Homo sapiens: one gene and its partners. The protein of the gene in region 1 purifies or fractionates together with the protein of each later gene. This does not show direct contact. Each region holds a gene or a part of one and is shown in the gene's direction. Other genes may lie near its edges.

Region 1 (4,143 bases):
CGCCCGGCAACACAATCTCTTATCTAGAATAAATCGGTCACCTCACCGGAGGTTTTCCCTGCCTCCAATTCTCTCCACATCCAATCCACTCCTATAGCACCTAGCATGATCACTCTAACAAGGCAATTATTCATACCTCTCCTTAGCTTAAAAAGCCTAAGTAATTCCCCAGTACCTGGCATGTGGATTCCAAGACCTTTGATGACCTGACTCCAGCTCTGTACCCCTCATTTCTCACTCTTGAAAACCCTGGGGTCAAACCACTCTGGGTTTCTTTTTGACATCAGTATATGCTGCACAGTGCGAGCCTCTGTGACAATGGGCACTACCCCCCTTTTTTCCCCTTTTTGTCTGTTTTTTTCTTCCCCAACCTCTTCTGTGCTTCCAAAGTGTTGTCATATCTTCCCCATAGCATTTAACACATTGGAGCTTTTGAGGGTAAGAGCTTTGTTTTATCTTCATATAACTTTTCAGGACATAATAGGTGCTAAAGAAATGTTTTTGAATAAATGAATGAGTTGGTTGATGCTAGGCTCCTTTGCATTTGTCCTGTCTCATTTCTGCATTCTAACGCACGATAGGCAAATAGGGCTGTTTTTCTCTCTCATTTTCAAGACCTGAAAGACTGTGGTGTATACAGGAATCAGTTTAAGTGTTCAATTATGTGGCATTTCTTAGCCATCTTCCCAGGGGAGTTGGTAAGCACCAGATGCAACTCTATCAATGACATTTTGGTCATAGAACCATTGTTGGCTTAACCCATCTCTTGCTTATTTTAAAACATTTTCTGAATAGAGGTCAAGAACATCGTCTTCGGCCTCAGATAGCCTGGGTTTGACAAAGATAGCAAGCTTTGTCACTTTCTGACTTTTGGACTTAGTTAACTCACCTGAAAAATGGGAACAATAATACAAGCCACAGTTATGAGAATTCAACGAGATAATGCATGTACAGCACCTGGCACATGGTAAAACGCTCAATAAGTGGTAGTTAGTAGGCTTAATGTATCTCGGTGCCCAGGGGTAGCGCAGTAGCCATGGGGAGCTCCTGAGAGAGAAAGCACAGCCTAAGGGGAGGATTTGGGGCCCGGGATGGCGATGGCGACGGTTGGGCTGCAGTACCGTCTAGGCCGCATTCCTCTCCTTGGGCCCCTAGCCACCCCCTCCCCGCCTGGTTCCCGGGCTGCAGACTCTTCCCCGCCCCCTCGCTCCCACTTCCCCACCGGAGGTCGAAGGCTGTAAACGCGGCGGGTGGAACCTTGTGTGGGCGGAACGCGAGTGCAGCGGTGGGAGGCTTCCGGGGGAGCTGCACGGGCGACGGGTCGGCGGAGACAGAAAAGCGCCGGACGCCGGGGTGATCATGGACGCTTGACAACCTGCGGGCAGGCGCCGGGAGGCCGAGCCAGCGACTAAGAGGACCGAGAGGTGGCGTGGACAGGTAGGAGCTAGCGAGAGGGTGGGCCGAGCGGGGCCGGCGCTCCAGGCTCGGCCAGACGATCCGGCTTAGAGCCCGCCGCCAAGGAAGCCCGCGGCCGTGCCCGCCCCGCCCCCGCCTTGGGGAGCGCGTCCCGCGGCTCCTCACTCCACGCCTGCGGCCCTGCTTGGAGCATACCGCCCACCGTGAGGTCTGCTGCAGCTTGCGACCCTCAGCTTCAGTGCTGTGGCTGCTTTCGCTCTCCCATCCCCAAAGGCTGCTCGTTTGCCCCTCTCCAGTCCATCCAAATAGCGCCCTCCCCTGACGGGAATTTATCTCCGCTCTGTGCCTAGCCTCTGGCCCTCCCACTCCAGAAGAAAGCGACTGTCTCCGTCTCTTTACATTCTCTGCGCCCACAGGCTTTGCTCCTTAAGCCGAGATTTTTTGAAGGGACAGAAGTTTCTCTCCATTTCCCTACCCCCTCTCCACCCCCACCTCCTAACATTGGGACTCTTTGCAGAGATCCCCATCTGTCTCTTCACACGGGTCCTCTTGGAAGGGCCTTTTCGCTCCTTCCCTCTTTACCGTCACCGACCCTCCTTTCTTCCCTACTCCTTTCCTTCTTCCTCGTATCCTCTCCCCTTCTCTTTTCCCTTTCCCTTCCGTCCTCAAACTCGTTGTTCCCCAGCACTTCATTGTTTTTCCTGTGTCTGGCCGGACCTTCTTAGGTAACCCTAAGTGAGGCGACATACTTGTTTCTCTAATACTGTGAAAGGGCAACTAATCTGTGTGCCTGCCAACACAAAACTTAGTTCCTCTTGCACCAAACTATTCTTCAAATTGTTCTTTGCTGCACTCTACTATACCGTTTTTCGTTCATTTTGTCACGCTGCTCTAATATGTATCATTCTTGGAGGAGAAATCTTACCTGGAACTCCTGTACACTCAGCGTGTAATTAGATTACACAATTGAGGGACCCTCCTGTACTTAATGTCTTCGGAGCGCTGATACAATATTTTCACTGTTTTCCCAAATCTTTTTATCGTTTTCTTGAGGTTTTTTTTTTTTTACACATTCTGAAGTCACGTTTGGTTAAAATGTCGTATCAGGAGGAGGCCGAATACAGGGATTTTTCCCCATGGTCTTACACAGCATGTATGTTCTTAGTTTGAATATATCGCTACTTTTCTTTCAAAATGATGTCTCCCTTTATCTGTGCTTACTTGACTTGATTAAATGAGACATCTTTCTTGTCTGGTTTTTTGTTTTCCTTATCTGTCTGGCTGTAGATTGGATTCTGATGACACAGTGGGAGCTGTAACTGATTGCTTTTGCTTACATCCGGTGCCTCTGTGTATAGGCAGTATCCTCCATTTCTTAACCAGAATGTATAAACGAGGTGGATATAAAACAGCTGCTGAGAAACTCATGTGTTTTTCTTTAGGTCCTGGTCAGGTTTAAGGACTTAGAAGGTGTTGCCTCTGGAGGAGGGACAGGTGGAAGTGAAATGACTTTTACAAAGTGTGTTTCAAACACCAGAATTTAGGACAAGATCCTTTTAACTCCAGGTTGAACTCCACCCATCTCATAAGGTGGTCATTGCATCTGGACTCAGGAACTGTTTTTTTTTTTTTTTTTTTTGAGACAGTCTCGCTCTGTTGCCCAGGCTGGAGTGCAGTGGCACAATCTTGGCTCACTGCAACCTCCACCTCCTGGGTTCAAGCAATTCTTGTGCCACAGCCTCCCAAGTAACTGGGACTACAGGTATCTGCCACCAGCCTAGCTAATTTTTGTATTTTTAGTAGAGATGGGGTTTTGCCATGTTGCCCATACTGGTCTCGAACTCCTCACCTCAGGTGATCCACCCGCCTCAGCCTCCCAAAGTGCTGGGATTACAGGCATGAGCCACTGCACTTGTCCTGTTTTTTCTTTATCAACACTATAAAAGTAAAGTATTCTGGTGTTTGATTCAGCACTGAATAGGCACAGACTTTGCAAAGGAGAAGGAAGAATGACTGACACAATTTTCTTTTGGACAGATTTCAAGGCCAGAGAATGGCAGGGGAACAGAAACCCTCAAGTAATCTCCTGGAGCAGTTTATTTTACTAGCCAAAGGTACCAGTGGCTCAGCCCTCACTGCTCTCATAAGCCAGGTCTTAGAGGCTCCCGGAGTGTATGTCTTTGGAGAACTTCTGGAGCTGGCCAACGTGCAGGAGGTAAGAACGGTTTGCAAACAATTTCTCTTTATTCTAAGACTCTGTAATTCTCCAGGTTTCCAAAGAATTTCAGTGCTGAAGTATTGTGAACCTGTGAGGTACCCTATTGTGAGACAGATGGGAATTGGTGGGGCAGAGGGAGAGATTGAGAGAATATCCTTGGCTCCTTTTATCCAGTATTTTTATCTTACCTTGGGTAAAATTAGATTGTTGCTAATAATAACCTAAAAGATAGTAAAAAAGTCAAATTGATCCTGATAAATTAGAAAAGTAGTGCTGTAAGCATGGGCTGTTTAATAGGAGTAGATTCATGCATTCTTAAGGACCAGAAACCTCCAGTGCAATATCGATAAGGAAGATTGGTCAGGGACACACAGCAGAAACATACTGCTATTGAACATAAGATGGACATGAATAGGAGTGTATTGTTCTTGAGGAAAAGGGCAGTGTTGTGCTAAATGTGTTAGATGTGTTAGATATGACATGAAAAGCTAGGACATAGTTCATTTTAC
Region 2 (3,500 bases), on another chromosome or scaffold:
TGGGTGGATCACCTGAGGTCAGGAGTTGGAGACCAGCCTGGGCAACAAGGCAAAACCCCATCTCTACAAACATACAAAAATTAGCTGGGCATGGTAGCAGGCACCTGTAACCCCAGCTACTCAGGAAGCTGAGGCAGGAGAATCGCTTGAACCTGGGAGGCAGAGGTTTTAGTAAACCAAGACTGCGCCACTGCACTCCAGCTTGGGCGACAGAGCGAGACTCTGTCTCAACAACAACAAAAAAAGAAAAACCAGAATCAAATCTTCATGACATTGGGTTTGACCATGATTACTTGGATATGACACCAAAGACACAGCCAAGAAAAGAATAAACAAAGACATTGGACTTAGGGAAAATGTTAAAAATGTATACCTCAAAGGACAATACCGGCAGAGTGGAAATGCCACCCACAGGCTGGGAGAGAAAAAAAATATTTTTTTATTTTTTCATTTTTTGAGATGGAGTAGCGCTCTGCCACCATGGCTGGAGTGCAGTGGCACGATCCTGGCTCACTGCAACCTCTGCCTCCCGGGTTCAAGTGATTCTCCTGCATCAGCCTCCTGAGTACCTGGGACTACAGGCACACGCCACCACGCCTGGCTAATTTTTGTATTTTTAGTAGAGACCCGGTTTCATCATGTTGGCCAGGATGGTCTCGATCTCCTGATCTCATGATCCGCCTGCCTCAGCCTCCCAAAGTGCTGGGATTACAGGCCTGAGCCACTGTGCCCAGCTGAAAAAAAAATGTGTTTAGAGACAGGATCTCACCATGCCCACACTGGTTTCCAACTCCTGGTCTCAGGCAATCCTCTCGCCTCTGCCTCCCAACGTGCTGGGATTACAGATGTGAGCCACTGCTCCAGGCTGGAGACATTTTTTTATTTTTTATTTTTTTTTTGAGAGGGAGTCTCACTCTGTCTCCCAGGCTGCAGTGCAGTGATACGATCTTGGCTCACTGCAACCTCCGCCTCCTGGGTTCAAGCGATTCTTGTGCCTCAGCCTCCCAGGTAGCTGGGATTACAGGTGTCTGCCACCACACCTGGCTAATTTTTGTATTTTTAGTAGAGGGGGATTTTGCCATGTCGGCCAGGCTAGTCTCTAACTCCTGGCCTCAAGTGATCTGCCCGCCTCGGCCTCTCAAAGTGCTGGGATTACAGGCGTGAACCACCAGGCCGGCCTGTGCTGCTTTTTTTTTTTTTTTTTTTTTTTTTTTTTTTTGAGACGGATTCTCGCTCTGTCTCCAGGCTGGAGTGCAGTGGCGAGATCTCAGCTCACTGCAACATCTGCCTCCCAGGTTCAAGCGATTCTCTTGCCTCAGCCTCCCAAGTAGCTGGGACTACAGGCGCCCACCACCACGCCCAGCTAATTTTTGTATTTTTAGTAGAGACGGGGTTTCACCATGTTGGCCAGGCTGGTCTGGCACTTCTTGACCTCAGGCGATCTGCCCGCCTCAGCCTCCCAAAGTGCTGGGGTTACAGGCGTGAACCACCAGGCCCAGCCTGTGCTTCTATTTTTGATCGGCCCAACTTCTGATCTGTATTCAGTGTCGTGTGGGCCCCTCGCTGGCAGGTGGTAATAGCGTCCATGATTATCCATGATCCTAATTAGCGTGTTGGGTTCTATGATCCACCCAGAAGTGGTTGAGGTTTTCGGTGGTGCCCGAGGTGGGGAACCAACAGTTCCTCATGGAAAAGGTGCCCAAGAAGGAGACACCCAGCTCCCAGTGCCCTCTCCTGGGGCATCCCGGGCAGAACAAGACAGGCCATATAGACGCTTCCGGGTGTGTGCTGTGTAGATGGGTTCAGCCTCTTGCTCGTTTTCATGGGTGACCACCTTGCCAAGTCGTGTCCCTATGTCAGAGGGCAACGGACAGGGGCTAATTCTGGAAGGTTCCTCGGGGAACCTGATGTGGGTGTTTGGGTCCTGCCAGCTCAAGGGCCGGTGGCCGAGTCTAACGGTCTGAGTGGTCCCCTGACGCTCTCCCCTGGGGGCGGGCATGGCGGTCCCACCTCACGGCCACCCGCGTTGCTTCTGCAGGTTTCTCTACTCGGACGAGGTGCAGATTGGCCCGGAGACGGTGATGACCACGCTATACACCGCCAAGAAGTACGCGGTGCCAGCGCTCGAGGCCCATTGCGTGGAGTTCCTGAAGAAGAACCTGCGAGCCGACAACGCCTTCATGCTGCTCACGCAGGTGGGCGGGGCCGGTACGAGGCGGGGGCGGGGCCAGGCCTGGCTGGAGGCGGGGCCGGGGTGGGGCGGACCGAGGCTGGAGGCGGAGGCGGGGCCGGGGGCGGGCCCGGGAGGCAGCAGGCTCCTGCCTGGTAGTAAAATGTGTTTTGGGCCGGGCGTGGTTGCTCACGCCTGTAATCCCGGCACTTTGGGAGGCCGAGGCGGGCAGATCACCTGAGCTCAGGCGTTCCAGACCAGCCTGGCCAACATGGCGAAATCCTATCTCTACTAAAAACACAAAAAAGAGCCGGGCGTGGTGGCGGGCACCTGTAATTCCAGCTACTTGGGAGGCTGAGGCAGGAGAATTGCATGAACCTGGGAGGTGGAGGTTGCAGTGAGCCGAGATCGCACCACTGCACTCCAGCGTGCATGACAGAGCGAGACTCCACCTGAAAAAAAAAGATGTGTTTTGGACTTTTCCGTGATACTTCAAAAAATTATTGGCAGGGTGCGGTGGCTCACGCCTGTAACCCCAGCACTTTGGGAGGCCAAGTAGGGAGGATTGCTTGAGGCCCGGAGTTCTAGACCAGCCTAGGCAACATAGAGAGACCCCGTTTCTACAAAAAATTAAAAAAAGATTCAGGCCGGGCACTGTGGTTCATGCCTGTAATCCCAGCATTTTGGGAGGCTGAGACAGGCAGATCACCAGAGGTCAGGAGTTTGAGACCAGCCTGGCCAACATGGTGAAACCTCATCTCTACTAAAAAAAAATATTTCATAAATTAGCCAAGCACGCTGGTGCATGTCTGGAATCTCAACTACTTGGGGGACCAAAGCAGGAAGATTGCCTGAGCCCGGGAGGTTGAGGCTGCAGTGAGTGGAGATGGCGCCACTGCACTCCAGCCTGAGTGACAGAGTGAGACCCTGTCTCTAAAAAAAAAGTAAAATAATTTTTTTTTGAGACGGGGTTTCTCTTGTTGCCCAGGCTGGAGTGCAATGGCACGATCTCAGCTCACTGCAACCTCCGCCTCCAGCGTTCAAGCGATTCTCCTGCCTCAGCCTCCACAGTAGCTGGGATTACAGGCCCCCACCACCGCGCCTGGCTAAAAAAAAAGAAAAAAAAAAACCAGAGAGAACTTTCTCTCTCTCTCTAAGGAAATGTCAGGTAGACAGAGCAGGGCCAGGGATCTCAGGGGACCCCAGTTGGGCTCTGTGCAGCCCAAAGGGCGGGGGCTGGGGAGGTCGTGCAGGCCAGGGAGGCTGAGAGGACGTGGGGCCAGTACGGGTGGACGGCCGCTTGGGAGCCGTGAGCTCCTGGTCGGGGGTG
Region 3 (3,500 bases), on another chromosome or scaffold:
GGAGGACATGAATAGTGTGTTTATTGTAACTCCTCATACACTTTTAAAACCAACATCTTTTTTCATAAATGTTGGTAGTGTTTGTCCAGGTACCTTAACTGTAGCTTGTGTAATGTTGATGAATATCTGTATCTTACGGCTTCCATAATGGCTAGTTGATATTCAAAAACCTATTTCTGTGTTTTGAGGGGTGGGGAAAAAAAACACTAAGTGATAATTTGAAAAAGGCATATTGCTTCCAGATTCTGATGTGTGAGGGAAAATACTGTCACAATGAAAATCTTGACAATTTACTTAACAAGTAACCAGTAGTTCATCAAAACCAACTTGTACAGACTAATAAATCTTTTTCACAGTATTCAGTTTTCTCACCTCTTGCTATTGTATATTGTAGATTTTTTTCATTCATGTGTTATTTAATTTACACTGATCTCTGCTATTTTAACCCCCCAAATAAGTTATTTGTCCTTTAAGGTTGGTTACTATAATACCCCTCAGTAAGATTCCAGTATTAATTTCTGGGCAGTTTGTTCTCTGTATACAATTGCAAATGATAAGCATTTTTGTGAGTGACCACCTTTGCAATATGTTTGTTAATTTACTTCATGTTGGGTTCTTTCTGAAATGTACATCTTTACATATAAAAACCTCACATTCTACTTGATTTACACTTCCTAGTCTACATTACATGTGGTTGAAGGTTTTATACATTCTATATGCTTTTACTAAATATACAAGATTTACTACTAGAAATTTGGAGAAAGAACACTAACACATGTACTTGTGATTTGTTCATGTTATATTAAAACTTGAGATTTGTGTATTTATGTAGAGTCTGTATTGACAAGACTGTTGTTTTTTGCTCCTTGAGCTATATAATAATCTGTGTATTGGATTGTTGTCTTGATTTGGTCTAAATTTGAATATATATGAGTTACTTGAATATAACAAAAATGAATTTTGTTTGATAGATTTATATTGTAACCTTTTTCTAGTTCTTGAATAAATATAGCCTGCTTTCCCTAGATGCATTTGTGTAGGAAGTATATACATTTCCCTATTACTCTCATCAGCTGAAGAATATGTACTATTGTGTTACTCAAATTATGTGGCTTTCATTTTGTTGTTTTGTTGCAAGCTTAGTGTTTTGTAGTGGAGGTTTTGTAAATGAAACAGTTGTAATATCTAAGGTCAGGCACCTAGTAACAGGGTTTTGTTAATTCTTTTCAGAATCATTGAAGCAGTCTTAAAGGGTCTTTTGCAGATGGTACAAATTAGAACAATTAGAATATAGTATTTTGAGTTCTAGTAGTACTGAGATTGACCCAAACAAATAAAAAACTATTCAATTTCTGAGTAATAGTTAATATTTATTGAAAGCTTCCTTGGTGCCAGATGCCTTTCTAAGTGCTGAATTATCTCATTAAACCTCACAGCAACCTTAAGAGATTAGTACTCCTATTATGCCCATTTTAAAGGTGAGGACAACACAATGTAGGTATGTTAGGTAACCCCCAAAGATCACATAGCTACTCAGTCACTGAGCTGGATTCCAGTCATGGCATTTTTACTTCTGAGCCCATACTCTTCACCATCGCTCATTTTACAATGGGTAGTTAGTTACCAGCTTTTTGTAACACAACCAAGTTAAGGCAGTTCCACTATTTCTTTATCACTCTTTTGTTATATGTAATAGAAGTATTTCACACTTTTGGGTTATAGAGTAAATCCCATGATGTAAACCTACCTCATAAGTCATGTGACATAAAAGTTAAGGTAGTGGAGTAGGTGGTCTTATTTCTTTCACCTGCTCAGAGTGGACTGAAAATCCTGACTTAGAAAAGGTACAAAGTTAGGGGACTTATGGTACCTTCACTTTTTATGTGAGAATAGAAATTATGGAAACAGTAATTTGCTCAAAACTGAAATCTGGGGTGATGTTTTCATTTCATGTATTTGATTGCCATCCATAAACTCATACTTGGTGTTGACATTCTAGCTGAGTGTTGTGGAAATAGACTTGATTTTGATTCATCGTAGCTTGCATGGTCAAGAGACATGATTCTCTACTAAGGGTGGGGCTAGCACCATAGCTCATAAAAGAATCCTTCTTACACCAGTACTTGTTCTGCCTGTGAGTTGGCACAGACTTACCTAATAACCATAGTGTCTTTAAGTACAACTTAATACATATTTTTTCTGTGTATTTTTTTCAAATGAACTCAACAATTCTTCAGGTATTATAGATCAGAGATCCTCTCCATATTCAAGCATTATGCTTCTCTTTCTTGGGGGTACATTTCACTAGTAATACTTAGGAAGTTATTTTGTCTTTCCTGTATTTCCCTAGTTAAGTATAGGGGTAAAAACGTTATTCAGCTTTCAGAAGACATTGTTCTGACTCCGACCCTGCCGTGTATACTCAACTATATAGACTTCACCCTGGGTTTTGCCTAAACTGTTGAAAGACGAGAATAAATAGACATAGACAGGCTAGCTAAGTCAAGACTAGGGGCTAAGGAATATAGAATCACCCAGGTCTTTTTTTTTTTTTTTAATTTTTCTCTCCTCAGTTGGGAACATCTATCATGCTGGAGGACTACTGTGATGGGGCTTTACATTTTACTGTTTTGTTGCTAGCTTATTGTTTCATACTTGGGAATCAGTCATGTTTCTGATTGTGGTATAAAGTTTGCTTAAGTGCCCCTTAGTTAAAGCTGTTCAATGAATGTAAGCACACACACACCTACACACATATTTTGAATAGTCGTGTGTTCATGCCTGTTCTCAGTCTTGTCCCCTTTACCGTTTCTCATGCAGGTTATTTCTTGCTTTTTTTTTTTTTCCTCTTTTTTAACCGGAGAAGCAACAAATTACGTAGTTTTTTTTGTGTTTCTTTGATTACTAGTGAGCTTGAGTACTTTTAATATTTTATTGGATATGTTTGTGACTGACTTTAATTTCTTGTTTGTGTGTGCTGTGGCTGCCCGATCCAGCACCTACTTCCTTCTCCCACCATACCACCCCCACCCCCACCCCTGCAAACAATTGGCATGTGGTTTGGGTGGCATTGTCACACCCTCGGCTTTCTAGATTAACCCAGTTACCTTTTAGCAGTGCCCCACTTCCCCAGTAGCAATGGTTCAGGGGTAGGCACCTGACCCAGACCAGACTACTGAGATAAAGATGTTTGCCTAGGCTTTTTCAGGAGCAATTGAAGACATCTTGTTGGAGATAGTGTGCTGGGAGGAGTCACATTCTGAACTTGCTGCAGCTCGTTTTTCTAATATAAAGGAACCAGCCTGAGGCAGTACCAGGGTGAGAGGGAGTCTATTGGAGCCCTTGGGAACTTCTGGATCAAATTGGACCTGAATTGAGATCTATTTCTCAGCTTTCACTTATGTGAGCCAATAAATTCCTTTTTTGTTGAAGGCAATTTGACTTGGATTTTCTTTTTTCTTGCAACCAAATATAAGTAGTGTGAGAATGTGTGTGTTTTT
Region 4 (3,500 bases), on another chromosome or scaffold:
TCACCACAACCTCCGCCTCCTGGGTTCAAGCGATTATCCTGCCTCAGCCTCCCAAATACCTGGGATTACAGGCATGCGCCACCACGCCTGACTAATCTTTTGTAATTTTAGTAGAGACAGGGTTTCTCTTATCTTGGTCAGGCTGGTCTTGATTTCCCGACCTCAGGTGATCTGCCTGCCTCAGCCTCCCAAAGTGCTGGGATTACAGGCATGAGCTACCGCACCTGGTGTGGGCCATACTGTTAACCCTTTTATCTTTTCATGTAAGTACAACTATTATTACAGCTACAAACCACTGAGTAAGCAAAAATCAGAGGAAGAGCTCAAGGACAAGAACCAGCTGTTAGAAGCCGTCAACAAGCAGTTGCACCAGAAGTTGACTGAAACTCAGGTAAGAGACCCACCAGAGCTCTGTTACCAGCTGCCACTGGGCGATCCACATGGAATCCTGATGGGTGGCCCCTTGGATGAGCAAGCTTGTTAATGCACAGATGCCCAAGGGCAGAAAAAAAAAGCCAGGCTTTTGCTATGGCTGTCCAAGAGCAAGGGCAAGAAAGGGCAACCACCCCTAGGGAGTTGGACAATTCCTGATCTGTCTGTGCTGTGCTCCAATAGGGAGAGCTGAAGGACCTGACCCAGAAGGTAGAGCTGCTGGAGAAGTTTCGGGACAACTGTTTGGCAATTTTGGAGAGCAAGGGCCTTGATCCAGGTAAGAGACAGCACACAGCTAGCCTCCTTTGAAGGAATTGGTGCATGTGCCCCTTCCGGGGTTGATCTTGGCAGCATGGCATCAGCTGGCCCAGTATGTGCAGGGGTTACTTTCATAAAGCCCTAAAGATTTTGGAAAGCTTCTGTTTGTTTTCATGTGATGTTGATTTTTGCCTGGCCAATAGGATTTCAGATGATTATAGAGAGAGGGTTATCTCTTTCTTACCTGAACACTTTATGCCATTCATTTAGTGCCAACAGGTATGACCTTGCAAATAGATGAGAAACACTTTGTTCCTTTCAAGGGAGAACATTTTCTGTCTCTTCCTATTTGGGAAAGTTACTAGTGTGCTTGAAAGGAACATTTTGTTTGAACATGCTCTTCCTTTCAAGCATACTAGTAATCCCAAATGGGAAGAGAAAGAAAATACTATTTCAAGCATTCTTAAACCTGGTTAATCATCAGAATTACAGTGACTAAAATATGACTACTATTCTGACCCTGTCCCCCAGAAAGCAGTATCTGTAGCAAAGAGAGCAGAAGAAGGAATTGCCCAAAGACTGTAAGAGGGCCTCAGACTGAGTCAAAGAGCCAGAGAATGCCCAGGAAAGGGGCCCAGGCCTTTTTGTATTAAGGAATACTGACTTTGAATGTTACTGGTTAATCTTTAGGTTACAGTTGAGGATATTCTTTTTTTTTTTTTGAGATGAAGTCTCATTCCATTGCCCAAGCTGAAGTGCAGAGGTGTGATTTCGGCTCACTGAAACCTCCTCCTCCTGGGTTCAAGTGATTCTCCTGCCTCAGCCTCCTGAGTAGCTGGGATTACAGGCGTGTACCACCACACCCAGCTAATTTTTGTATTTTTAGTAGAGATGGGGTTTTGCCATGTTGGTCAGGCTGGTCTCAAACTCCTGACCTCAAGTGATCTGCCTGTCTCGGCCTCCCAGAGTGCTGGGTTTACAGACATGAGTTACCATGCCCAGCCTAGGATATTCTTTATAGTCACCATAAATATATATGTTTTTAAATTTAAAATTGTTTATTTTTTTGAGATGGGATCTCGCTATGTTGCCCAGGCTGGCCTCCAACTCCTGGGCTCAAGCAATCCTCCCAAATAGCTGGGACTACAGGTGTGCACCACCACATCCGACACCATAAATATTTTGTATGATTTTAGTTTATTACATGCATGTGATATTACCGAAAGTAATAATTTTTTAAGGCCTGAAAGGCTCTTAAAAATAGCTTTGTGAATTGTGAACAAAACCAAAAAAAATCCAACCTATACATTTCCTTTGGACAAATTGTCCACTGACCTAAGGAGAAAGTATACCGAATTTTTGGCCATATCAAAACCTAGATTGAAAGGAGATAAAATACAGTTTTGCAGGGCAGATATGGGTGACCCTGCCAAGGTGAAAACTTAGGAGAAAGTCCAGGATGAGACACTTAAGAGAAATTCCCCTCATGAATATTTCTGTACTTGTCCACGGAGGGTTTTTATTTTCTTTTGTTTAGGGTGTGTAGTTCCCTAAGTGAGATTGACTTTGTTGTATCCATCAGCTTTAGGCAGTGAGACCCTGGCATCACGACAAGAATCCACTACTGATCACATGGACTCTATGGTGAGGGCATGGGTGTGAAAGGGCGCAAGGGCTGAGTGACTGTGGGGCTCTGTAAATCTAAGAAGGTCTCTGCTATATATTCCATAAACTCCAAGAAACAGCCTTTGATTATCTGTGATGCTAGAAAAGAGAAATGGGATGTGTACTCAAAATAGCATATTTTACTTGAAAGGTAGCTTTGTGCTTACAAATATAAGTGAGTCTGAATTGAAAATTTAAAACACATAATAGGTAAACCTGTAGAGAGAGCTTTCTCGTTCTTCTGTTCTATACTTTATCAAATTTCTCTCCTGACTCCTTTGTTGAGAACTGTGTGGAAAGGATGTTAGCCATCATCTAATGCAAGTCTGGTTTTATATGAAGATTTGTTTACTACATTGTGCTTTCCTCTTAGTTGCTGTTAGAAACTTTGCAAGAGGAGCTGAAGCTTTTTAACGAAACAGCCAAAAAGCAGATGGAGGAGTTACAGGTGAGAGGCAGACATCACCCTGACCATTTCCTACCATGATAGGTAGATTTATAGTGGGGTCTTTTCTGTTTTTCTATTTATTTTTAATAAACTTTCTAAATAATTTTAGATTTATAGGAAAGTTACAAAGATAATACAGAAAATTTACCCTGATAGTAACGTGTTTTTTTTTTTCCAACTTTTAAGTTCAGGGGTACACGTACAGGGTGTGTAGGCTTGTTACACAGGTAAACGTGTGCCATGGTGGTTAGCTGCACAGATCATCCCATCACCTAGGTATTGAGCCCAGCATCCATTAGCTATTCTTCTTGATGCACTTCCTCCTCCACCCCCAATAGTAACATCTTACATTATCCTGGTACATTTGTCAAAACTAAGAAATCAGCCAGGCATGGTGGCTCACGCCTATAATCCCAGCACTTTGGGAGGCTGAGGTGGAAGGATTACTTGAAGCCAGGAGTTTGAGACCAGCCTGGGAAACATAACAAGACCCCATCTCTACAAAATAAAATTTAGAAAATAGCCAGGCGTGGTGGTACATACCTGTAGTCCCAGCTGCTCAGGAGGCTGAGGCAAGAAGACCACTTGGGCCCAGGAGGGCAAGGAGATAAAGTCTCACTGTTGTCCCCCAGGCTGGAGTGCAATGGCGTGATCTCGGCTCACTGCAACCTCCGCCTCCCGGGTTCAAGCGATTTTC

The links.
Region 2: the proteins of COPS7B (region 1) and BTBD2 purify together in Homo sapiens (affinity purification with mass spectrometry; one large-scale study listed by BioGRID and IntAct). This does not show direct contact.
Region 3: the proteins of COPS7B (region 1) and RAB18 purify together in Homo sapiens (affinity purification with western blotting, with the first as the bait; one study listed by BioGRID). This does not show direct contact.
Region 4: the proteins of COPS7B (region 1) and KNSTRN purify together in Homo sapiens (affinity purification with mass spectrometry; 2 studies listed by BioGRID and IntAct, with this or other methods). This does not show direct contact.

Annotation. Positions count from the first base shown.
Region 1 is NC_000002.12:231,785,102-231,789,244, forward strand, and holds the start of COPS7B (COP9 signalosome complex subunit 7b), read left to right. Parts: upstream 1-1,343; 5' UTR 1,344-1,437; intron 1,438-3,453; 5' UTR 3,454-3,469; coding exon 3,470-3,631; intron 3,632-3,637; exon of another isoform or gene 3,638-4,143. UniProt on the Homo sapiens protein: Component of the COP9 signalosome complex (CSN), a complex involved in various cellular and developmental processes.
Region 2 is NC_000019.10:1,991,715-1,995,214, reverse strand, and holds part of BTBD2 (BTB/POZ domain-containing protein 2), read left to right. Parts: intron 1-2,038; coding exon 2,039-2,195; intron 2,196-3,158; coding exon of another isoform or gene 3,159-3,338; intron 3,339-3,500.
Region 3 is NC_000010.11:27,538,804-27,542,303, forward strand, and holds the end of RAB18 (ras-related protein Rab-18), read left to right. Parts: 3' UTR 1-3,436; downstream 3,437-3,500. UniProt on the Homo sapiens protein: The small GTPases Rab are key regulators of intracellular membrane trafficking, from the formation of transport vesicles to their fusion with membranes.
Region 4 is NC_000015.10:40,389,221-40,392,720, forward strand, and holds part of KNSTRN (small kinetochore-associated protein), read left to right. Parts: intron 1-285; coding exon 286-391; intron 392-615; coding exon 616-709; intron 710-2,272; coding exon 2,273-2,334; intron 2,335-2,728; coding exon 2,729-2,803; intron 2,804-3,500. UniProt on the Homo sapiens protein: Essential component of the mitotic spindle required for faithful chromosome segregation and progression into anaphase.